Linked DNA regions of Homo sapiens. The protein of the gene in region 1 interacts with the protein of each later gene in a biochemical or structural test. Each region holds a gene or a part of one and is shown in the gene's direction. Other genes may lie near its edges.

The links.
Region 2: the proteins of DLG1 (region 1) and DACT1 interact in a test that uses a peptide from one of them, tested with the Homo sapiens proteins (one large-scale study listed by IntAct).
Region 3: the proteins of DLG1 (region 1) and GAB3 interact in a test that uses a peptide from one of them, tested with the Homo sapiens proteins (one large-scale study listed by IntAct).
Region 4: the proteins of DLG1 (region 1) and ABCC6 interact in a test that uses a peptide from one of them, tested with the Homo sapiens proteins (one large-scale study listed by IntAct).
Region 5: the proteins of DLG1 (region 1) and CNKSR2 interact in a test that uses a peptide from one of them, tested with the Homo sapiens proteins (one large-scale study listed by IntAct).
Region 6: the proteins of DLG1 (region 1) and AKAP10 interact in a test that uses a peptide from one of them, tested with the Homo sapiens proteins (one large-scale study listed by IntAct).
Region 7: the proteins of DLG1 (region 1) and CACNA1A interact in a test that uses a peptide from one of them, tested with the Homo sapiens proteins (one large-scale study listed by IntAct).

The regions. Positions count from the first base shown.
Region 1 is NC_000003.12:197,047,113-197,050,612, reverse strand, and holds part of DLG1 (disks large homolog 1), read left to right. Parts: intron 1-3,500. UniProt on the Homo sapiens protein: Essential multidomain scaffolding protein required for normal development. Recruits channels, receptors and signaling molecules to discrete plasma membrane domains in polarized cells.
Region 2 is NC_000014.9:58,644,462-58,647,961, forward strand, and holds part of DACT1 (dapper homolog 1), read left to right. Parts: intron 1-796; coding exon of another isoform or gene 797-907; coding exon 908-2,673; 3' UTR 2,674-3,500.
Region 3 is NC_000023.11:154,713,078-154,716,577, reverse strand, and holds part of GAB3 (GRB2-associated-binding protein 3), read left to right. Parts: intron 1-248; coding exon 249-552; intron 553-3,151; coding exon 3,152-3,371; intron 3,372-3,500.
Region 4 is NC_000016.10:16,153,995-16,157,494, reverse strand, and holds part of ABCC6 (ATP-binding cassette sub-family C member 6), read left to right. Parts: intron 1-1,640; exon of another isoform or gene 1,641-1,703; intron 1,704-2,463; coding exon 2,464-2,622; intron 2,623-2,700; coding exon 2,701-2,867; intron 2,868-3,500.
Region 5 is NC_000023.11:21,372,996-21,377,222, forward strand, and holds the start of CNKSR2 (connector enhancer of kinase suppressor of ras 2), read left to right. Parts: upstream 1-1,427; 5' UTR 1,428-1,902; coding exon 1,903-1,966; intron 1,967-4,227. Other genes in the region: uncharacterized protein LOC105373146, read right to left, coding at 988-1,427.
Region 6 is NC_000017.11:19,967,829-19,971,328, reverse strand, and holds part of AKAP10 (A-kinase anchor protein 10, mitochondrial isoform 1 precursor), read left to right. Parts: intron 1-2,867; coding exon 2,868-2,915; intron 2,916-3,500. UniProt on the Homo sapiens protein: Differentially targeted protein that binds to type I and II regulatory subunits of protein kinase A and anchors them to the mitochondria or the plasma membrane.
Region 7 is NC_000019.10:13,496,480-13,499,979, reverse strand, and holds part of CACNA1A (voltage-dependent P/Q-type calcium channel subunit alpha-1A), read left to right. Parts: intron 1-3,500.

The DNA.
Region 1 (3,500 bases):
TCCACGTATAAATGAAATACAGTATTTGCTTTTCTGTGTCTGGCTTATTTCATATAGCATAAGGTCCTCCACATTCACTCATGTTGGTTGTTGCAGATGATAGGATTTTCATTTTTATGGCCTAATAAAATATTCCATTGTTGTATATATACCATATGCATGCATACATACATACATATATATATATATTTGTTGTTGTTTGTTGTTGGGTTTTTTTGGGGGTTTTTTTTGTTGTTGTTTTTTTTTGAAATGGAGTCTGGCTCTGTCGCCCAGGCTGGAGTGCAGTGGCGCAATCTCGGCTCACTGCAACCTCCGCCTTCCGTGTTCACGCCATTCTCCTGCCTCAGCCTCCCGAGTAGCTGGGACTACAGGCAGCTGCCACCACGCCCAGCTAATTTTTTGTATTTTTAGTAGAGATGGGGTTTCACCATGTTAGCCAGGACGGTCTTGATCTCCTGACCTCGTGATCCACCCGACTCGGCCTCCCAAATTGCTGGGATTACAGGCGTGAGCCACCGTGCCCGGCCTGTTTTTGGTTTTGTTTGTTTGTTTTTGAGGCAGGGTTTTGTTCTTGCCCAGGCTGGAGTACAGTGTCATGATCATGGCTCACTGCAGCCTCAACCTCCTGGGCTCAAGCAATTCTCTCTCTTCAGCTTCCTTAGTAGCTGGGACTACAGGCGTGCAACACCACACCTGGCTAATTTTTTATTTTTGTAGAGACAGGGTCTCGCTATGTTGCCTAGGCTGGTCTCAAACTCCTAGGCTCAAGCAATCGTTCTTCCTCGGCCTCCCAGAGTGCTTGGATTATAGGTGCACTGCACCTGGCCTACAATATTCTCTTTATTCATTCATCTTTTTTGTTTTTGGAGATGGAGTTTTGCTCTTGCTGCCCAGGCTGGAGTGCAATGGCATGATCTCAGCTCACCACAACCTCCCGGGTTCAAGCGATTCTCCTGCCTCAGCCTCCTGAGTAGCTGGGATTACAGGCATGTGCCACCATGCCCAGCTAATTTTGTATTTTTAGTAGAGATGGGGTTTCCCCATGTTGGTCAGGCTAGTCGAACTCTTGACCTCAGGTGATCCGCCCGCCTTGGCCTCCCAAAGTGCCGGGACTACAGGCGTGAGCCATCGGGCCCGGCTCATTCATCTTTTGACAGACTCTTAGGTGATTTTCATATCTGGGCTATTGTTGATTATGTTGCAGTGAACATAGGAGTGCAGATTTCAACATACTGATTTATTTTCCTTTGGTTTTCTTTTTGTTGTTGTTGGCTTTTTGTTTTTTATTGTTTTGTTTTGAGACAGAGTCTCACTCTGTTGTCCAGGCTGGAATGCGGGTGTGATCTCAGCTTGCTGCAACCATCGCCTCCTGGGTTCTGTTGATTCTCCTGCCTTAGCCTCCCAAGTAGCAGGGACTAGAGGCACATGCCACCACACCCAGCTAATTTTTGTATTTTTAGTAGAGACAGGGTTACAGGGTTGGCCGTGCTGGTCTCAAACTCCTGACCTCAAGTGATCCGCCTGCTTCAGCCTCCCAGAGTGCTGGAATTACAGGTGTGAGCCACCACGCCTGGCCCAATTTCCTTTCCTTTGTATATATATCGAGTAGTGGGATTGCTAGATCATATAATAACTCAGTTTTTAATTTTTTGAGGTGGCTGGGCACAGTGGTTCATGCCTGTAATCCCAGCATTTTTGGAGGCCCAGGTGGGCAGGTCCCCTGAGGTCAGGAGTCCGAGACCAGCCTGACCAACATGGCGAAACCCCTTTTCTCTACTAAAAATACAAAATTAGCCGGGCGTGGTGGTGCATGCCTGTAATCCCAACTACTTGGAAGGTTGAGGCAGGAGAATTGCTTGAACCTGGGAAGCGGAGGTTGCAGTGAGCCAAGATCGCACAATTGCACTCCAGCCTGGGCAACAAGAGTGAAACTCTGTCTCAAAAATAATAATAGTAATAATAATTTCTTGAGGAATGTCCACACTATTTTCTGTGATGGCTTTACTCATTTACATTCCCACCAACAGTGTACAGGGTTCCCTTTTCTTCATACCATTGCCTACTTGTTATCTCTTATCTTTTTGATAACAGCCATCCACACAGGTCTAAGGTGATATTTCATTATGGTTTGCGTGTGTGTTTGTGACAGAGTCTTGCTCTGTCACCCAGGCTGGAGTACAGTGGCATGATCTCAGCTCACTGCAACCTCTGCCTCCTGGGTTCAAGCGATTCTCATGCCTCAGCCTCCTGAATAGCTGGGATTACAGGCACATGCCACCACACCCGGCTAATTTTTGTATTTTTAGTAGAGACAGGGTTTTGCCATGTTGGTCAGACTGGTCTCAAACTCCTGGCCTCAAGTGATCTGCCCGTCTCAGCCTCCCAAAGTGTTAGGATGGCAGGCGTGAGCCACTGCACCCAGCCTCATTATGGTTTTGGTTTCTGTTGCTCTGATTAATGAGGTTGAGCACTTTTACTGATACCTGCTGGCCATCTGTATGTCTTCTTTGGAAAAATGTCGATTCCAGTCCTTTGCCCATTTTTTAAATGGATTATTTGGTATTTTGCTAATGATTTTCTTATATATTTTGGATATTAACCCCTTACCAATTGCATGTTTGGAAATATTTTCTCCTCTTCCATAGGTTGCCTTTTCATTTTGTTGATTGTTCCTTTGCTGTGTAGATTTTTTATTTAATATCCCACTTGATGATTTTTTATTTTGCTGCCTGTGCTTTCCAAAAAATCATCCAAGACCAGTGTGAAGGCGCTTTTTTCCCTGTGTTTTCTTCTAGGAGTTTTATGGTTCTGGTTTTACATTTAAGTCTTTAGTCTATTTCAAGTTAATTTTGTATAAGATAAGGGTTTAGTTTCGTTCTCTTGCATGTGGATATCCAGATTTTCCAGCACCATTTATTTAAGACACTAGCCTTTCCCTATTGTGTAGTCTTGGCCCCTTTTTAATGATTAGTTGCCCTTTGATCCGTTTTGAAATACTATTTGTTTAAAAAAAAAAAAAGTAGGTAGCAACTCCCCAATATTCTTATTTTACTCGCCTTGTCCTTTAACTTCCTCCTCAAGTCTTTGGACATTTTTGTTGTTGTTACTTGTTTGTTTGAAATAATATCAGCCTAAATTTGACATTCACACTGAGTATCAGTAAGGGTCATGGTTTTTAAACCTTGTGCTTTCTTATTTTTTTCAAACTAATTTCAGACTTAAATAGAAGTTACAAGAATAGTACAGGGAGTTTCATGTACCCTTCACCCAAATTCCTCAAGTGTTAACATTTTACCACATTTATAGGTTTTTTTCTGATACACTTGAGAGTAAGTTTCAGGTAGATGTCCCTTTACTTCTAAATATTTCAGTGTGTATTTTCTAAAAAACAGGGATATTCCCTTATAGAATCATAGTTTTATTATCAAAATCAGGAAATTTAATAATTATATGTCTCATCTAACTATAGATCTTATTAGTATTTCACTATTCTTCTAATC
Region 2 (3,500 bases), on another chromosome or scaffold:
GGCCTAAGCGATCCTCTGGCCTCAGCCTTTTGGTGTTAGGATTGCAGGCGTGAGCCATCATACCTGGCCCCTGTTTTATTTTTTTAGCATCACTATTGAAAACATAAGGCGATTATTATTTAAATCTGATCAGTTTTTACTGAAGTTTGATCAGTTTCCATCACCTTTCAATTGACAGTTATATTTGAATGGATGTCATTAAGAATTAGGTTTAAAAAAACACAAAATGAGGAGAAAGCCTACTGAACGTACAGTTTATCCTAAAGAAAGCCAGGAATAGAACAGAGGGGAGAGCAGCCTAGAGAAACAGTGATTCAAAAAATGTTTCCCAGTTGTAAACGCAGTACAGACAGTTTAACAGAAAATAAAGAAGAAAGTAAATATCACTTACTTCTGATCATTCTGAAATACTACTACTAGAATCTTGGTGTGCTTCATCTCAGATGTTTTTTCTTTGCATACATGTGATCCTAATAAGATTATAATCATATTCTAGTATTATATCATGATTTTCACTAAACTTTAAAGTGTTTTCCCTCTATTATGCAGTAGTTTGAAAACACTCTTAATGGCTGAATTTTTTTCCTTCAGAGGATATATCATATGCTGTCAAAAATTTTTGTTAAATATTTCCCCCTCATCCAGTAGCAGTACCTACATGTGAAATGGTAGGGCAGCACTTTTTAATCCTTGGCAATCTCTTTTTACCCATGGATTTTTCATAAAAATTGGCCAAAGAGTCAAGCTGGTGCTGACCAATTCATTTCTTCAGAGTGTACCTTTAACTGTTTTTCAGATCTCATAGGATTGTTGGAATATAAAGAAGGCCACTGTGAAGACCAGGCCTCAGGGGCAGTTTGCCGTTCCCTCTCCACACCACAATTTAATTCCCTTGATGTCATTGCAGATGTGAATCCCAAGTACCAGTGTGATCTGGTGTCTAAAAACGGGAATGATGTATATCGCTATCCCAGTCCACTTCATGCTGTGGCTGTGCAGAGCCCAATGTTTCTCCTTTGTCTGACGGGCAACCCTCTGAGGGAAGAGGACAGGCTTGGAAACCATGCCAGTGACATTTGCGGTGGATCTGAGCTAGATGCCGTCAAAACAGACAGTTCCTTACCGTCCCCAAGCAGTCTGTGGTCTGCTTCCCATCCTTCATCCAGCAAGAAAATGGATGGCTACATTCTGAGCCTGGTCCAGAAAAAAACACACCCTGTAAGGACCAACAAACCAAGAACCAGCGTGAACGCTGACCCCACGAAAGGGCTTCTGAGGAACGGGAGCGTTTGTGTCAGAGCCCCGGGCGGTGTCTCACAGGGCAACAGTGTGAACCTTAAGAATTCGAAACAGGCGTGTCTGCCCTCTGGCGGGATACCTTCTCTGAACAATGGGACATTCTCCCCACCGAAGCAGTGGTCGAAAGAATCAAAGGCCGAACAAGCCGAAAGCAAGAGGGTGCCCCTGCCAGAGGGCTGCCCCTCAGGCGCTGCCTCCGACCTTCAGAGTAAGCACCTGCCAAAAACGGCCAAGCCAGCCTCGCAAGAACATGCTCGGTGTTCCGCCATTGGGACAGGGGAGTCCCCTAAGGAAAGCGCTCAGCTCTCAGGGGCCTCTCCAAAAGAGAGTCCTAGCAGAGGCCCTGCCCCGCCGCAGGAGAACAAAGTTGTACAGCCCCTGAAAAAGATGTCACAGAAAAACAGCCTGCAGGGCGTCCCCCCGGCCACTCCTCCCCTGCTGTCTACAGCTTTCCCCGTGGAAGAGAGGCCTGCCTTGGATTTCAAGAGCGAGGGCTCTTCCCAAAGCCTGGAGGAAGCGCACCTGGTCAAGGCCCAGTTTATCCCGGGGCAGCAGCCCAGTGTCAGGCTCCACCGGGGCCACAGGAACATGGGCGTCGTGAAGAACTCCAGCCTGAAGCACCGCGGCCCAGCCCTCCAGGGGCTGGAGAACGGCTTGCCCACCGTCAGGGAGAAAACGCGGGCCGGGAGCAAGAAGTGTCGCTTCCCAGATGACTTGGATACAAATAAGAAACTCAAGAAAGCCTCCTCCAAGGGGAGGAAGAGTGGGGGCGGGCCCGAGGCTGGTGTTCCCGGCAGGCCCGCGGGCGGGGGCCACAGGGCGGGGAGCAGGGCGCATGGCCACGGACGGGAGGCGGTGGTGGCCAAACCTAAGCACAAGCGAACTGACTACCGGCGGTGGAAGTCCTCGGCCGAGATTTCCTACGAAGAGGCCCTGAGGAGGGCCCGGCGCGGTCGCCGGGAGAATGTGGGGCTGTACCCCGCGCCTGTGCCTCTGCCCTACGCCAGCCCCTACGCCTACGTGGCTAGCGACTCCGAGTACTCGGCCGAGTGCGAGTCCCTGTTCCACTCCACCGTGGTGGACACCAGTGAGGACGAGCAGAGCAATTACACCACCAACTGCTTCGGGGACAGCGAGTCGAGTGTGAGCGAGGGCGAGTTCGTGGGGGAGAGCACAACCACCAGCGACTCTGAAGAAAGCGGGGGCTTAATTTGGTCCCAGTTTGTCCAGACTCTGCCCATTCAAACGGTAACGGCCCCAGACCTTCACAACCACCCCGCAAAAACCTTTGTCAAAATTAAGGCCTCACATAACCTCAAGAAGAAGATCCTCCGCTTTCGGTCTGGCTCTTTGAAACTGATGACGACGGTTTGAGTGACATCATTGGTGTAGAAAGTTTGTGTGTTTTTTTTTCTTCTCCCTAGTTGCCAAAATTAAAAAGGTGGTGTTTTCATTTTTGTATAATACTTTAATGGAATGCTTTTTAAAAAAATATAAAACCAAGGTAAATTATTGTTTCATCTTCACGTATGGATGCTAGTGCCTTTAATGGAAGGTAAAGAATGTTTTGCTAGTTAGAAGTACATATTGAGGTTTTAATGGTGGTGATAGTGAGTTTTGTGGCACCAGCTGTTTTTTATTTTAAACTTTCTGAGCATCCGGCAAGGTACAGGTTTTGATGTTCAAGTTTTATTGGGATAAGATCTTTTGATCCCAAGGTCAGGTGGATGGAATTTTTGGATTTATATTTGTTCCTTGAGTCTTCAGGGCAGTGTCTCCATGAGGGTTTTCCTGTTGAGGGGCACCACATACAATAGTGTGAAGTAGGTATGAGGGGCAGTCATTGTATTCTATAGTTTTTTTATGTAGTCTACATTTCTCAGATGTATCCCCATTCGGTTTTATTCTCAGAACTGTTACTAGACTCATGACTTGGAGGCCAAACCTTAAATCCAGAGATAGCAGCCTCGATAGGGACCTTAAAAGGATTCACAAAAACTTTTGCCACACTTGGTGCCTAGGCCCTGTTCCTAATAACCCCTTCTAGGGCCGTTTATCCAACATTTAGATGCCTTCTTTTCCCTCCCTAATTTGTAGCCAGTCCAACCTTTCATTCCTTGGAGGATTTAGTTTTGGGATAAAATTTTGGTCCTTGGGCACAGAGACATTCACTATTAATGAAGTAACCCTTGGGCATGACT
Region 3 (3,500 bases), on another chromosome or scaffold:
TAATTCTGGCCCTTCAAACTGTGGGTGTGAATCCCATTACTAGACTCTCCAATCCTGACCCGTCCTTAAAATCATCCAATAAAGCGGACTTGAAGATGGGCACTAGTCCTGTAATACAAAGCGTTTCATCATTAGAATGGCTGATTTGTTTCCTTCCTGCTGTCCTTGTCATGACATGGGTTCTTGGCATAGCCTGAGAAACAAGAGAAATTGGTCCAGTAACTCCTTATTGAATTGCCTTTCTGCAGGCCTGGCGCAAGCGCTGGTTTGTCCTCCGGCGAGGCCGCATGAGCGGCAACCCCGATGTCTTGGAGTACTACAGGAACAAGCACTCCAGCAAGCCCATCCGGGTGATAGACCTCAGCGAGTGTGCAGTGTGGAAGCATGTGGGCCCCAGCTTTGTTCGGAAGGAATTTCAGAATAATTTCGTGTTCATTGTCAAGACTACTTCCCGTACATTCTACCTGGTGGCCAAAACTGAGCAAGAAATGCAGGTGTGGGTGCACAGCATCAGTCAGGTCTGCAACCTTGGCCACCTGGAGGATGGTGCAGGTAAGAGCGGAGTTGGGGCTCCCATGTGCTAAGGGGTATCCCAGGACTGGAGGGTTACTGCAGAAAAACAGTTCAAGATGCCAAGCCTGCCTCCTTGAGGGTGTTTTGGCAGGCTAATTTATATCAGAACTGTTCCTACCAAATACAATACTGGAAATTGCCCTCTTTTACCCAGTCCAAATGTGGGAAGGCAGAGTCCATGAGCACACTGAGCATTGCAGGTTACTTTAATGGCTTTAAAACCCCTTCATGTCTTTGCTCTCATTCAGCCACAGTGAAAGTCAAATGTGGATGAGGATGTCTTCCCATGATGCTGACACTCATGACCTTCTAGAAATATCAAATATTGCCATACTTCAAAATATTGTGGAACTCCAGCATTTCTGGTGCCTATTGGGTTGTTCATCACTAAATGGTAGAAAGAGAGAACTTGGCTACTTATCGTAGGCAAGAAAGATTTCCTGATACCTCCAAATGTCTCAAGTTCTCTGCAGAGGAAATTAGTTGTAAGTTTGCTCTGGGCCATTTCTGGGCAGTGGGAGCAATTGACCCATGAAGAGTACCCCAGAGTCTCTCTCTCTCTCTCTCTCTCTCTCTGCCACACGCACACACGCACACACGCACACACACACAACTCATCCTATGTAATTTTCCAGGTATATTGTAACCTAGGGTTACAATTAACTTCCCTTCATGGATTTTGTTGTTGAGCCCCTGACATTATTGCAACATGTCCTATTCCTCAAAATATGAGATTTTGAATCTGGTTTCTTTTAGCCTCTTAGTCTAGTAGACAAAACTTTGCCCCTAAATCCTGTAATCTATAGTTGCTTCAACATTTTAAGAGTTACTGCATGGTTTCCACCATCTGCCACTGAAATATCCACACTCTAACGCTAGGTGGCAATGGAGAGTCAGAATTGAATCTCCCTCCAGGACAGGCACAAGAGTGTGCTTTCTGAGAACACATTCCTTTTCGTTTCATGAACCAGGGAAGCATATTAAGTGAGGCTATTCAATAATATTGCTGAGCATTGGGAGCACTCAAATAAAAGGAAATGAAGTGATGGCAAGTTCTTTATCCTTGGTACAATGGACAAAACTTAATTGGAAAAGCAGCATTAAGTAGGTTCTGGCTAGAGTCTGACATTATGCAAATCAAGCAGAACCTCCCTGACCAACTAACTTCTCCAGCCTTGCTGCTGGCTCTTTACCACCCTGTTGTGCACCTTCAGCCTTAACTAGGTATATCGTCGTATACTGTGTTATATATCTCCTCTGTTTCTTTCCTTATCCAGGAGTTATCCTAAAACATACATATATAATATGTTTCCCAATAACCCAAGAGCACCAGGAATGAGTAAGGCACCAGGCCGAAACTGGAGAGCCTGTCCCGGCATGAAGTTGGAGGAAGCCAGAAAACTCACCTATGACCCTTTCCATTCTCTGTAGCCCCCCGCCTCAGTTTTTAGAACCACATAAGAGCAGGGTCCTCTTCATCTGAGAATTACACCCAAAGGGCTTTCTTGTGACTTTTCACAGAGTGTTTGGTTCTGTCTCCAGCAACCATATAGTAGTCAACACATTGTGTGTGTACCCTGGCCAGGATCTCTGTTGAAATGCTTTTGTATATTAACTTGTCTCATCCCCACAGCAGTTCTATGGCCTATGTGTGATTACTATCTCCACTTTATAGAAAAGGAAACTTGGAGAAGGCAGGCCATGTAGTAATGGCTATGTAGTAGAGCCTGGACTTGAACCTAGTTAGTTCTGGGTCATCCTGACTCAGGAATCCTGGACTATTAACTTGGTTCAAAAGGGAAATAAAAGCAGGCTTTTCATTGGCTGTTTCTGATCTGGAGTTCTCATTGATTCCTGATTCAAATTCATCTTAAGGACCATGTTCTCAGGTGATGGGGAGAATGTTATGCTCCTTGAGAAAAAGAAATGGACTTTTCCAGCCACCACAGCACTGTGTTTCTTTCCTTCCCTTTACTTATAACAGTGATGAACAGGACTCTTTATTTATGTGTTATTTGTCTGTCTTCTCTGCTAGAATCTAAACTTCAATAAGGGCAGGATCTTTGTCTTGGCTGTATTGAGGGTTAGTGGCATTCTGGGCACATGGTAGATGTAATAGGTATTCTATATAGACATATACCTATATAATAAACATGTATAGGTATACATACATATATGCACAAGTACATATATAACTATATGCATGTACTTGTTATGCATATATATATATATATATATATATATATATATATATATATATATGTTTGTTAGTTGAGTGAAAAAACAATGAGGCAAGGCTGCTGCTGAGGGCCATAAAGAAGCTGTGCGTAGATTAACTGCAGATTTTTGGGCCAAGAATGCTGGGTTTTTTACTCTTAATTGATTCAACACTTTGCTCTTGAAACATTGGCCTTCTTTCCCAGACATTGTTTATAGCTTGGGGAAATGGTCTTCTCCATCAGTACAAACACCAGCTGTGATTTGCATCTTCTGTTTGGCTTCTTTGATGCTGTTGGAGAAATTTTGAGTGCGTGTTATAGCCATTCTTAAACATTAACCTGGGAAATGATTTCTCCAGCAGATTCCATGGAGAGCCTCTCTTACACGCCCTCCTCCCTGCAGCCATCCTCTGCCAGCTCCCTTCTTACCGCCCATGCTGCCAGCTCCTCTTTGCCAAGAGATGACCCAAACACTAATGCCGTAGCCACTGAGGAAACCAGAAGTGAGTCAGAGCTTCTCTTCCTTCCAGATTATCTGGTTTTGTCCAACTGCGAGACTGGAAGACTGCACCATACCAGGTATGCTTATGCCCAGGACTCTGTCTGAGCTGGGCCTGCTAGCATGCTCTCTAGAGTCACACTGCCTCCTCTTGCAGTCCGTAGCTGAGATGTGTTCAGTGTGCTTCACCAAATTAGTCCATTTAGTGG
Region 4 (3,500 bases), on another chromosome or scaffold:
GCTTCCATCTGGTGACTTCCTCATCCACCTTGGTGTCCCCAGATGAGGAAGCAACTCCGTGACTTCCTTCTTCCTTTAACATTAACCCAGCACCTAATATGTGCTGGGCAGTGTGTTAAATGCTCCAGGTACATTTTCCAGTTTGCACAAATGGGATATTTGCTTTCAGCTGGGAGACATTGGGAAAAGCACTTCATAGCTCAGTCTCAGTTTTCCCATCTGTAAATTGGGACTGGTAATACTGATCTCTGAGTTGTTGTGAAGTTTGAGTTAATACATAGAACATGCTTAGCTCATAGAAAGTGCTCCAGAAATGTTTACTAATGCTTTTATTATTTGCGTTTTCACTCTCACAACAACCCCTAAGTGAGGTGCTAGTACTATCCCATTTTACAGATGCCTCATCAGGCCCCTTCACTGAATCCCTTTCCTCCCTCCCTCTGAACCTACAGAGGCTTCCTCCCTGTCCTCTCCTTGTCCCCTAAAAAGCAGTGGATCCTGTCTCACCAGCTCCAATCTGCTCTCCTGTGATTTTTTTTTTTTTTTTTTTTTGAGACAGAGTCTCACTCTGTTGCCCAGGCTGGAGTGCAGTGGTGTGACCTTAGATCACTGCAACCTCCGCCTCCCAGATTCAAGTGATTCTCCTGCCTCAGCCTCCTGAGTAGCTGGGATTACAGGCACCTGCCACCACACCCGGCTAATTTTTGTATTTTTAGTAGAGACAGGGTTTCACCATGTTGGCCAGGCTGCTATGAAACTTCTGACCTCAATCACCCCCCTCGGCCTCCCAAAGTGCTGGGACTACAGGCATGACCCACCATGCCCAGCCATCCTGTGACCTTTATCAGCATGAATGACACTGCATGTCATTCCCCTGCTCAAAACCTTCTACTAGTTCCAGCTTCCCTTGGGGTAAAGTGTGAATTCCTGAGCTTGGCATTCAAGGCTCTACCCAACCCAGGCCCTGCCAACCTCCCCCTCTCATTCATTGCTCTGCCAGGGCTTAGCCAACATTGTGGAGCAGCTGCCTCTCGGCCAGGGGGGCACATGGTGCTGTGAGCTCCATGAGCTTCTAGTTTTGGAAACCCACTTGGTGTGGTTTACCTGGAGTGTTCCCCTTCCTTGAACTCCTATTGATCCTTCAAGCTTCCATGCAAGTATCCCTTCCTCCATGAGGTCTTCTCTTATTACCTCTGTCAAATCCCAGGCAGCATGAGCAGCACTGCCTTGCTTCCCTTAATTGCCAGAGGTCCAGACCTTGATAATAAACAGCATTGTTGGCTGGGTGCTGTGGCTTATACCTGTAATCCCAGCACTTTAGGAGGCCAAGGTGGGCAGATCACTTGAGGCCAGAAGTTTGAGACCAGCCTGGCCAACATGGTGAAATCCCGTGTCTACTAAAAATACAAAAATTAGCCGAGCATGGTGACAGGCACCTGCAGTCCCAGCTACTAGGGAGGCTGAGGCAGGAGAATTGCTTGAACCTGGGAGGTGGAGGTTGCAGTGAGCTGAGATCGCACCACTGCACTCCAGCCTGGGCAATAGAGCAAGACTTTATCTCAAAAATAAATAAATAAATAAATAAATAAAGCATTGTTCATCACACTGTATTACATTTACTCAATTGCACTGTTTCCTAGACCGGATGATGGGCACACTGGAGCAAGGACTCTTTAATTTCTATACTTCCGGTGCCTAAACAGGTACTTGGCATACAGTGGGGTGACCCACATGTTTCCATCATTAATTAAACAAATAATGTTGAACCCACACCATGTGTCAGACACTGAGGATGCAATAGTAGCAAGAGAGATAAGGATGGAGGGTGGATAACAGCATGGGAGATGGATAACAGAATGGACACATGGATAAGATGGAGGATGAATGGAAGGATGGATGAGGGAAGGATGGACTGGATGGATGGATGGGAGAAAATAAATGAATGAAAGGATTAGTGAATTGATGGATGAATAGGGAAGAAGAAACGAGAGACGGATAGACAGATGAATGGATGGATGAATGGAATGGGGTGGAAGAGAGATGGAGGGATGGGATTGAGGATGGATGATGGATGGATGGATGGCAGGATGGGGTGGAAAAAAGGATAAGGGATGGATGGACGGACAGACAGATGGATGGGATGGGGTAGAAAAAAGGATGAGAGATGATGGAGAGGTGTAAATAGAAGGATGAGGAAAGATGGAGGAACTAAAGGAAGGGTGGGGAGAAAGATGGGAGAGAGATATCAGGATAAGGGAAAGATAGAGAAGAACACAGATGGAAGACTGGATGGATTGATGGGTGGATATATAGAAAGGTAGACAGATGGAAAGAGAGATGGAAGGTAGACCTTTACACAATGAGGGATGGATAGACAGATCTCGGGTACAGCAGAAAGATCTCCCCAATAAATGCCCACAAACCCTCTGGTCAGAGCAGGCCTTTCCTCCCAACCCCGGGCAGGTGGGCATCGTTGGCAGGACCGGGGCAGGGAAGTCCTCCCTGGCCAGTGGGCTGCTGCGGCTCCAGGAGGCAGCTGAGGGTGGGATCTGGATCGACGGGGTCCCCATTGCCCACGTGGGGCTGCACACACTGCGCTCCAGGATCAGCATCATCCCCCAGGTGAGGCTGGTGGAGGGGGTGGGCAAAGATGGGAGGCATGGTGGGACCCGGCTCTGACCCACCGCCCCTCCCCGCCAGGACCCCATCCTGTTCCCTGGCTCTCTGCGGATGAACCTCGACCTGCTGCAGGAGCACTCGGACGAGGCTATCTGGGCAGCCCTGGAGACGGTGCAGCTCAAAGCCTTGGTGGCCAGCCTGCCCGGCCAGCTGCAGTACAAGTGTGCTGACCGAGGCGAGGACCTGAGGTATGGTCGTCCCACCATGGCTGGGACCTGCAGGTGGGAGAGGAGGGGATGGCCATGCCCTCCCCAAGGGCCTTCAGGAAATGCCTCCCCCGATAGGATTATCACTCTGTTACATTAATAACCACATGTCTCTTATCTGCAATTCCAAGCTCTGACACAGTCTCTGAATACCAAGGTTTTCCCCCCTAAATTAGCAGTTAGTCTTCTATATTTACTTGGTGGCAAAACCCAACCTCAACTGACACAGGGCTACTGATAGCCTTTATTGCTCTTGCTCAGTATTTATTTTGCTATGAAAATATTGTTTGATATCGGGTGGTAACCTCACCACTCACTGGGACTATAATATAGGATTTTTTTTTTTGGTAAATGTCAAGTGTGGACTGGGCACAGTGGCTCATGCCTGTAATCCCAGCACTTCAGGAGGCTGAGAGAGGAGGATTGCTTGAGCCCAGGAGTTCGAGACTAGTCTGGGCAACATAGCAAGACCCTATCTCTGTGGACAACAGTATTAGCCAGGTATGGTGGCATGCACCTGTAGTCCTAGTTACTTGGGAGGCTGAGGTGGGAAGAACGCTTGAGCCAGGGAGGCGAAGGTTGCAGTGAGCCGATATTGCACCACTGCACTCCATC
Region 5 (4,227 bases), on another chromosome or scaffold:
AAAATTCTGCATATACTTCTAAGTTTGGATAGTTAGAAAAATAAAGAAGCCTAAATACAGGCCATCTTAAATTTTACTTGTTCGCTATCACTAGCATTGAAATCAGCAGTTAAAAACGTCACAATATTTTAACTACTGTGGTTTCAGCTGTTTGTGTGTGTGTGTGTGGGGGGGAAGGGTGTCGTCAACTCATGCCGGTTAAAGAACGTGACATTTCTGCATCTTATAAAATTGGACTAGAGAAAATGGGTTACCATAGGAACTGGCAAAACCTATTGACATTACTGGAATGCTTATTTAAAAAGTTTCTTTTACTTAATGGACCTATTTAAGAATGATAGAGAAAACGCCTATAACGGTGGCAGAGAGTTAGCATCTACACTCTAGGAATATTTGTCTTTTAAAGTGAAGCCTCATTAGGCAAACTGTATTTTACTAACCGTTGCATAGTAGCCTGTGTATGGTTTTTGAAGAAAATGAGTTTTGAAAAATCATGTCTACAATTTGTCACTCATTTTAAATCCCATTGTTGCCCTTCGGTTCTTATTAATATATAAGAATATCAAACACAAAATGACTTCTCTAAAATAGGTACTTTAGAGGAGTTGGCCCAAAACCTGAAACAGAGCCCTTTAAAATGGTACTTGGGGCAGAACCTGTCTCAGGATCACCACAACCAGCAGCTGGCAGGTGACAGCCTCAACGCCTGACTTCCCAGGACCCGCTCATCACCCGGGGAAGATCCGACAGCACTAGCCCTCCTGCCTCATCATCGCTGCGCTTCTGGCAGGCGGAGCCCCGTTCTCGTCCACGGCAGTCCACACCTCCGTCTCTGCAGGCGTACGCGGGTCTCGGGAATCACCTCCGGAGCCCACTCAGCAGCGGGGAGGGCGAGGGCGAAAGCGAGAGCCAGGAAAGCCCGGGCTCTCGCTGTAAGCCCCGCGCTCAGTGGTGTCCCCCTCCCCTCGGTGGTGGGGCCGCGGATACCTCCTCAGCCGCCTCAGCTGTCGGAGTTCAACTGGTGGGCGGCCCGTCCCGCCGTGGCCGCCACCGCCGGGTCCCCTCAGAGGCCTCACAAAGCCATGCTCCAGCCGCCCGCACCTGATTGACCGACCCCGGGCTCTGGCTCTGCCTCGCGCCGCCACCGCCTCCGCCGCCGCGCACGCGCACTTCGCGCGCCTCTGTTCCCGGACGGCCCCCAGAGCGGGAACGCCAGGCTGCGAGCTGCTGGCACCTGTCTGCCTGCCAGACAGACCCTGGGCTCCGGCCTCGTGCCGGCACGCGCACGCGCACGCGCCTCGCGCGCCTGCCGTCGGCCCTGGGGGCGGGACCGCGCGGCAGCGAGCGGGCGGGGGGCTCGTGGCGCGCGCGCCCCGCACCCGAGGGCTGCGGAGAGATATTTTGGGTGGCAGGAGGCCCCTCGTCATTTCCGCCGGGCAGCTAGTCGTGCTCGGGGCTTCACTCCCGCGCGTGAGGCGAGCGGGCAAGTTGGCTGAGGGCGTGCGGCAGAGGCTGCTTCCCTCGGCGACGCGACCCCTCAGCAACTCAAGCTATGAACTGAAGCTCCCTAGGGACGGAGACCGGAGCGGAGCGGCGGAGGCAGCAGCAGCAGCAGCAGCAGCAGCAGCAGCAGCAGCCGCCGCCGCCGCCGCCTTAGCGGGAACTGAGCAGACCCGGCGCGGAGCCACGACTCCTGCACGTTTACCTCCCTGTCGCCGTTCCTGCCGGCGGTTGGCTAAAAGACGTTACAGCCGCGAGACCCGACACACAAAAGCCGCTTTCTCCGCGCCGCCCGCCCAGGGAGGCTGCGGCCAGCAAGGGACCCCACCTGAGAGCAGCTCGGGCTGCTGAGTTCGTTTTGTGTCTGAGCTCTGCGCTCTGCACGGAACCGACCCCGTACCCATGGCTCTGATAATGGAACCGGTGAGCAAATGGTCTCCGAGTCAAGTAGTGGACTGGATGAAAGGTAATGCCCGCTGCGGGGAGGGTGAGGCGGCACTGGGGCGCGGGGCACCAGTGCGAGGTTAGGAGGGGGCGCCCGCCGCGCCAGAGCCCGCCACCGCGGCTTCCACTGGCGGATCGTCGTACGCGTCGGGGCGGGGGTCCTCCAGGACTGGCAGGGGCCTGGGGTCCCCGGTCTCCTTTTGTCTCCAGCTAGAGGGGCGCGGAGCGGCCAGAGAGCTAGAGGGCAGCGGGCGCCACCCCGTTGGAGGCAGGAAGTCGGGAGGCAGAATACCGGCGCATCTTGCGTACTCCCCTCTCCCCTTACTGCCCCCGGGCCAGGAGGACGTGGCGACCCTTATCTCCCAGCTCAGGGTGGACTCCCCCAGGACCTGCTCCCCTGGTCGCCCTTTCCTGGCCCCTTTGTTCCTGGGAAAGCTGACGCCCCCTCGGCGGCCGCCCTTGCCAGGTGCCTTCCCCAGCGCCAACTCTCCCAAGCAACTTTTAGCCCACATAATGGGGTCAGGACGCGGCCGCCCCCATTCGGAGCCTGGCATCCCCCCACACCCAGATTTGGCTGAGGATGCCCAGGGTGGGGGTATGTGCTACTTTGAGGGTGAGGACATCATGCTTCCCCTGGGACAGCATCCTTGCTGCTGTCTCTGGGCTGCCTCCAGCGCATCCCCTCGCATCCTTTGCCTTCTCTGCTTTCTCCCTTTCAAGCCAGTCGAGGTTTTGGACCTCACGGCTTTTTATTAAGGGCTCAACGCCAGATGTAAGGTGATGCGCATTCAGGTACCTTCACATTTCTTCCATCTTGAAGGTTCCCCCTTTTGTCCCTGGCGATTTATAATAACCACAGTTATAGACACTCACCCTCCTAATCGCAAACGTGAGCTTTTTTTCTGATCCCTGGGCTTTCCTGTCTCACTACCTCCCTCTGTTGTCTGAGTTAAGGGGCTTGTAGAGGACTCCCCCACCCACCAACCCCTTGGATCCTCAGGCCCAACTCTTCCCTAAGATTTTGGGAATTGAAGAGGGGATGGATGGGATGGAATGGAATAAAGGATGCGTGGCCACACTTGGGAAATGTTAGCGCTTTGCTCGAGGTCATACCTGAGCAAACTCTAGGTAGATCAGTCAGGGACCAAAGGCTTATTATCGCTGAAAATGCCCGTTCCTACGATGAAGGAGCCCCTTCTTGGGCTTACTTAACAGTCAGACTTTCTAAGCTCCAGATAATTTAGAACGAAAGGTGAGGTGATTGGGAGGGATTGAGAGTGACAGGGAGAAACTGATTTTTTTTGCTCATTCTTTTCCCCAGCCTTTTTGGCCGCTTGCTTATTCTTGTGGATTTTTCTTTATTTTGCTTTCCTTTTATTCCCTTACTTGCCCCTTTATTCCTCATTTACTTTGCTTTTCTTTTCTAATATGTGGAAACTGCTTTGTAACTGCTAAGCAGTACAAATGTGAGTGAATTGAATTAAACCTAATACATTATTTATCGACTGCACCCCTGTGTGCAGTGCATTGTGCTAAGGTGCCATGGGGGATATAAAGATGACTAAGACAAAGTCCTGCAGTGGCTCATCTTTGCTGCTGCTTTTTCTCTTTATGTATTTGCTATTGAAATTCCAATATCTTAGATTCCCACCAATTATCCTCACTCTCCACCTTCTCCGTTTCTCAGTGATGGAAGAAAGAGCCAGAGTATATACAGGAAGCAACAATGCTTAAAACCCCGTTCTTTGAATTTGTCTAAAAGGTTACTTTAGTTTGAGTCTGTTGCTGAAATATTAAAAGACAAGCTATCTTGGCTCCATGGGAGTCTGATTACCTTCATAGACTACCTTTCGCAAATTCCCATGATGCCTGTAGTGAGTGCTGCATACTCAGTCTCCACCTCCCACCCTCCCAGTTATATTCTTGCAGTTTCCCCTCTCTCCATAGTTTAGGTCCACTGAAGCAAGTAGAATATATGATGCACCTATTCTGACACACATTATTAGTTGTCCAGTACACCAGTCCTTTAAAAATCTTTCCAGCCTAAAATGTGGCTTCTTTGAAGTTAGGTTAACATTGTTAGCTGTGATTTGAAAATTTTTTTTAAATGTAAGTCGAATACCTTGTTTTCATACCTGTTGGTGACGCATTTTAGAGCTATTTGAAAAGATCAATTGGGTAGCCAAGATAGTTTGTGTATCGTGTATACATATGACTGGAAGAGAATGAATGATATAATTACCTGTATATTTCAAATCCCAGACTACTTACTGCTGAAATTTC
Region 6 (3,500 bases), on another chromosome or scaffold:
CCATGTTGGCCAGGCTGGTCTTGAACTCCTGACCTCAAGTGTTCCACCCAACTTGGCCTCCCAAAGTGCTAGGATTACAGGCGTGAGCCACCGTGCTCAGCCATTTGCGTGATTTTTAAAGATGTGCAGAATAATGCCATTAAAAAAAATACACATACATGTATATATATACACGTTTGGCTGGGTGTGGTGGCTCACACCTGTAATCCCAGCACTTTGGGAGGCTGAGGCAGGAGGATCACTTGAGCCCAGGTGTACAAGACTAGCCTGGGCGAGATAGCAAGACCCCATCTCAACAACAGAAAGGATAATTAGGTATGGTGGCATGAGAGGATCACTTGAGCCCAGGAGTTCGAGTGTTATCAGGCCACTGCACTCTAGCCTGGACAACAAAGCAAGACCGTGTCTCAAAAAAATAAAAATAAAAAGTATTTGTATGTGGTCATAGTCAAAAAACGTACATGGAAGGAAAATGTCTTTATTTATTTATTTATTTTTTTTTTTTTAAGACAGAGTCTTGCTCTGTCACCCAGGCTGGGGTACAGTGGTGTAATCTCAGCTCACCGCAATCTCGGCCTCCCGGGTTCAAGCGATTCTTCTGCCTCAGCCTTCTAAGTAGCTGGGACTACAGGTACCCGCCACCACACCCTGCTAATTCTTGTGTTTTCAGTAGAGACAGGGTTTCACCATGTTGGCAAGGCTGGTCTCGAACTCCTGACCTTAAGTGAGCCACCCGCCTTGGCCTCCCAAAGTCCTGGGATTACAGGTGTGAGCCACTGCGCTTGGCCAGGAAATATCTAATTTAGTAAGTATTTATATCTGGGAAAGGAAGGGTCAGGTGGTGATTCATAGGAACTCTAAAGTCTATGTATAATACTTAGGGGGACAGAAGGAAATAAAGCAAAATGCTGATATTTGATTGTTGAGTTGTGTATATGTTAGAAGTATAACATAGGAGATCTGATTGATAGTAGGAGAATGTTTTTAGGTGGTAAAAGTGGAACCGTGGTGGTTTGTTTTGGCAGTAGAATCAGTTGGTCATAGTTTGTATGTGGAAGGTAATAAACAGACCATGTTAAGGATGACTTCCGGAATTTTGGTCTGAGTAGTGGGTGGATGACAGTGTCATTCATGAGGGAAGATGAAGACTGAGGTAGGAACAGGTTTGGGAGAAGATGACATGTTCCCTTTTAGACAAGTGGAATTATGGAAGATGGCAGGTAGGTGGTTAGCTATATGAATTTGAGATAAAAGATTTAGGATGGAGATATAAATTTAGGAGTAACAGCGTATCTATGGTATTGTAAGCCTTAAGAATGGGTAGGATCAGCCAGGAAATACAGATGTATATGCAGAAGAGAGGAGTCAAGGAAGCCAAGACAAGTTAATGTTTAAAGTGAGTGATGTAGTCCATGGGCAGATGCTGCTGAGAGGGCTGCAAACACCAGTGACCCTACAACATTTTTAAATGTCGTCTTCCTGACAGCAGTGATCAGTACCTGCAACGATCTTATTTATTTTTTTCATGTTAGTCTCCACACACTTGAATGTAGACTTTTTGAAGGCAAAATCATTGCCTTTTCTGAGCTGGGAGCATGTCTGGCACATACCAAGCACTCAACAGTTGATGTATTGACTTCATCCAGATACTCTGAGGGCGAGTTATTTCCTGCTACTAGCCTTTCACCTTTCAATGTTTAAGAGCACAAATACAGAGATGGGCACGTTTTGGCATTTCTTATTTTGATAACCTTTTCCTGGTAAGATTTTTTAATGTTGAAAAAAAAAAACAAGAAAAGAGGGTTAAAAATAGTCTTATGTCAGATCCTGTGATAGAATTCACACTTGGCTTAAGCTGCTGGGCACCTTCCTATCTTGGATGTCATATTAGCTTATCTACAGCAGAATTTTTACTGTTTTATGTAGTAAGGAAGCAATTATATGATTATTTTACAGACAAATTATTCTTTATCTTTTATTTTTTTAGACGGAGTCTCTCTTTGTCTCCCAGGCTGGAGTACAGTGTCGCGATCTCGGCTCACTGCAACCTCCGCCTCCTGGGTTCAAGCAATTCTCTGCCTCAGCCTCCCAAGTAGCTGGGCTTACAGGTGTCCGCCACCACACCCAGCTCATTGTTTTGTATTTTTAGTAGAGATGGGGTTTCACCATGTTGGCCAGGCTGGTCTTGAGCTACTGACCTCAGGTGATCCACCCGCCTTGGCATCCCAAAGTGCTGGAATTACAGGCGTGAGCCACCGTGCCTGGCCCAGACAAATTATTATACTCTGAGTGTTAGAGGCTTAGGATGTTTTCACTTGATGCTATGGGAGGAATAAGTAATAAGATATGATACACAACCAAAGACCTTTCTTCACTATGCTTCTAGTAGCTAGTACTATGGATGACACATGGTAATAATATTGGTTAGCATTTGTCCTCAATTTACTGTGCTAGTTACTCTTCTAAGCCCCTTACAGGTATATATTTTTTTTCATCAATAATCCTCTAAGGTAGTTTTTATTATTGACCTAATTTTATAAATCAAGAAAATTAAGACCCAGAGAAGTAAGTAACTTGTCCAAGATCACATGGCTTATAAGTGGTAGAGCCAGAATTTGACCCCAGATGTTGTGACTACATTGTCTCTCCATAAGCAGGTTCAACTCTTTTGACTGGATGCTGTTCCAAGGTCACTTCCTTAGAGAAGCCTTTGCTGACAACTACCCTCCTGTGCCCTCCTCCAAGGCTGTCCATTGTTCTAGAACTTTGAATACTCATCTTAGAATAAAGCTGGTCTAATTTTTACAGTGTTATAGAATGGATCTCTGACTGCAAAAGTTGGTCATAATTATCTTTTTATGTTCTAGTGAAAGGCAAAGAACAAGAGAAGACCTCAGATGTGAAGTCCATTAAAGGTAAGTTCTGCCCTTGGCAGTCCACTGCATTAAAAAGTGATGTGCTTTGCATTTGTGAGTTCTTTAATCCTGTTATACTCTCTCTTTTGGCATTAATCATTTCTGCCTTATTTTATAATTACTTATGATTTTGATTTATTTCCCTCTTTAACCTGTATAATGCTTTAACATCTAGCATATAATAAGTAGGCTTTTTTTTTTTTTTTTTTTTTGGAGACGGAGTCTTGCTCTGTTACCCAGGCTGGAGTGCAGTGGCGCGATCTTGGCTCACTGCAAGCTCTGTCTCCCGGGTTCACACCATTCTCCTGCCTCAGCCTCCCCAGCAGCTGGGACTACAGGTGCACGGCGCCACGCCTGGCTAATTTTTTGTATTTTTTAGTAGAGACAGAGTTTCACCATGTTAGCCAGTATGGTCTCGATCTCCTGACCTTGTGATCCGCCCGCCTCGGCCTCCCAAAGTGCTGGGATTACAAGCGTGAGCCACCGCACCCGGCCGTAAGTAGGCTTTTTTTACCTTAATTTTATTTTTTTGAGATGGAGTCTTGCTCTTATCCCCAGGCTGGAGTGCAGTGGTGCCATCTCGGC
Region 7 (3,500 bases), on another chromosome or scaffold:
TATGCTTCCCCCTCCCTGTTTCCCCCCCAGTAGCAAGCACACATATACACTTTCTCAGCAATAAAAAGCACCGCCGGGAAGGTGGACTCCATCCAGAAATGATCAGAGCCTAAGAGCCGTGCAGTAACGCATTTCCGAGAATGCCAGCTCAGCTCCTGAGAAAAGGGCCGGATGGGATGGTGCCTGCTCTGAAAGAGGGCAGAGAGGAGAGGGAAAACACTCCGGACTCTGGGTCAGACTGGCCCAGGTTCACATTATTCACCAGCCATGTTATCTTGGGCACCAGAGCCTATTTCTTGACATGCATGATGAGGATATTCCTTCTAGTAGCATCTCCCTTGGAGGGCTCTCAGGAGATTAAATGGGGTCGTGCGTGAAAAATGGCCAGCACAGTCTCCAGCACAGAGAAAAACCCCAAAACGCCAGAGCCGTAATACTATGGAGTCATTTAGGTTCCAGTGTTCTTTTTTTGGAAACCGGCCAGAAAAGAGGCTTTCTGGGTGGGAATGGGAGCGAAGTGCCCCCCCCCACCACCCCCTGCGACTGGTCAGTGTGGATTGATTAACCTGATCGTGGCGCTCTTTAAAGCCACCTTTGGACATTTTGCATTCTCCGTTCTCTCTGGAAGCTTTCAGGGGAAAAAAAATTCGTGGCCACTTGACCCATTTTTCTATTCCCTTGAGTCTAAGGTAAAAATTAATTCTCTTTCCTCCTTTGGTCCCTCCCTCTCTCTGTGGGTGACAAGGTGAGGGAGTTTTAAAGTATATAATTAGCTTCCCTCTTCCCCTTTTGCACTCCCTGTCTCTTCCTTTGGGGCCGGTCGAGAGTGCAGCCCAGGATGGCCACCCCAGGTGTCCACTGCAAACTCCACAGAAAAACTTTGCTCAACTTTTGGTTTAGAATTTAGGTACCCCCCTCCCCTTCCAAACTTTGGTCTTCTTTCTCCTCACTCCCTAAAAAAATAGGAAAAACAAGGAACATTCCTGGCGAGGGAACCATGAGTGGGCACAGCAACTTAGGTTTCAAAAACCACTGGGCCTCAGTTCTTATCTGAGTAGGGTGACCCTTCAGCCAGGGTTGCCTGGGACTATCCTGGGTTTAGCATCTCTGGAAACTCACAGTCCTGGGCAAACTGGGACGCTGGTCACCCTAATGGTGAGTTCTTAACACCTGAGAGAGAAGAATGGTGCAAGAGATGGTGCCGTTGACCAAGAAAGGGGGAGAGTCAGTTACTTATTCCCTCTGAAAAGCCAAGACTTTTTATTGGAATGAATGCAGCTTTTAGAAGCCGTCTTTAAGGCAGCTAATACAAGAGAGATTCCAGCTATGAAGGGAAATGCCTGAGTTAAGTCCGGATCAAGTTTTGACATCTCGCTTCGGTCAGACACGGCTTTATCTGCCGTTCAGACTGGGAGCAGCCGTGAGTCTTCCTTAAAGGTGCCTGTTGCTCAGGCGGCACCTGCAGTTAGAAATTAGCAGCCTCCCACCCCCAGCCCCCAAATAACAGGATTCAAGAGTCCCCTCTCTGAAGCCATGAGGGAAACCCAACTTAGTCACCCACTTGCCAGTAAATAATATTCATGCTGTTAAGTTCTGTTCTCATTTTAGGCCTATGTGTAAAAAATATATGTAATTTTAAACTGATTTTTAAAGTATTTTCATACGAACAGCATTTGCAGGAGGGCGAAGTCTGGATGTTACCTTTTTGTAAAAGTGGATGGATTTGTCTTCAATGAGACTCTGGGGCAGACTTAAAACTTGGCCCGCAGTGGTGTTACATGGATTCTGATCTTCCAGAGTCTGTCACGTTCTTTTATCTCCATGATCTTTATTATCTTCTTTATTGAGAATGATGGGCATGGTGTGTGTGGGTGGGAGGGCTATGCTGACCATCACTGCAGTGAAATGTGTTCGTGGCATGTTGTGGCGTCTGCATAGGAATGTGTCTGTTTGATTAACAGCACAAGCAGTGGAGGCTGTAAGGAGGAAAAGAGGAGGGAAGGTGATATTGGATGGAGGGGAGACATATAGAGCTTGGGAACAGTCCACCCTGGCTGCAAATCTCAGCTCCAGCTCACAGTTGTGGAGCCTCAGTCTTCTCCTCTGTAAAACGGGGACAGTAGTCCTATGTCCGAGGAATTGTAAGAAGGTTAAAAGATACTGTACCCAGAAAGCACATGGCATATATAATCATCCTGTGAAGTAGCCAACTCAATGAATTTTATTTTATTTATTTTGAGTCAGAGTCTCACTCTGTCACCCAGGCTGGAGTGCAGTGGCATGATCATGGCTCACTATAGCCTCGACCTCCTAGGCTCAAGCGATCCTCCTGCCTTAGCCTCCCGAGAAGCTGGGACTATAGGCATGCACCACCGTACCCAGCTTTAACAACATAAATTTATATATATATATATATATATATATATATATATATATATATATATATATATATATATATTTTTTTTTTTTTTTTTTTTTTTTTTTTTTTTTTGAGATGGAGTTTCATTCTTGTTGCCCAGGCTGGAGTGCAATGGCGCGATCTCGGCTCACTGCAACCTCCGCCTCCCGGGTTCAAGCAGGACGATGGGCATTTGGGATGTTTCTAGTTTGGGGTGGGGGATTGTTTGTTTGTTTGCTGTTATGAACAATGCTGCTGTAAGGAATCAATAATTTTGAATGAATGAATTCGAGGTGTTAATTTTAGTCTGTGTACTTGGAAATCTAGCTTCACCTAGAATCAGCTGAGATTCATCAGCATTTATGGCAGGAGCTAAGACATTTCACAGCTTACTCATCATTTTCTCTAAGAGGCTGGGTCAACCGGTTAGCTCTTGGTCCTGCTTGTATTCTGAGAGTCAGAACCTGTGGTTTAGACACTGGCAATTGATATGGTTGTAGAGAAGCAGCATGGTTGAGTTGAGAGCATGGATTCTGGAGCTAGGTGGCTGGGGTTCAAATCCCAGCTCTACTAGTCACTGGCTGCGTGATCTTGGGCAAGTCACTTAAGTGTTCTGTGCTTCAGTTTCCCAGTCTGTCCCAGTGGTGATTCTAATAGCTCCATGGGGATCCTAATAGCTCCTATCTGGGAGGATTAAATGAGTTAATACATCTGATGTTTAGAGTGGTGCCTGACACTTAGGAAGCACTATATGTGTTTATACATGGAAGAGTGGATAGATGGATGGACTTATGTGGGTGGCCATATTTGGGCTTCTCTGATCCACTGCTGAGAATAGTGTGTGGCACACAGTAGGTGCTGCATAAGTGTTAATATTCTGCTCTTTCTTGCCAAGTCTCTCAACTCCCTTGATCTCTGTTATTTTTGGCGTCTGTGTTGTTAACCCATTCTTCTGAATGATCAGCTGAATCACTGTTGCTCCAATATATAAGCCAAGGAGAACACAATCACAAGGTCTCATTGATTGTCCATACTAGAATTCCATGATTCCTAGGCCCAAGTAGGATTTTCCCCACGTCTCAGCAATCCTTCTTCCATGTTT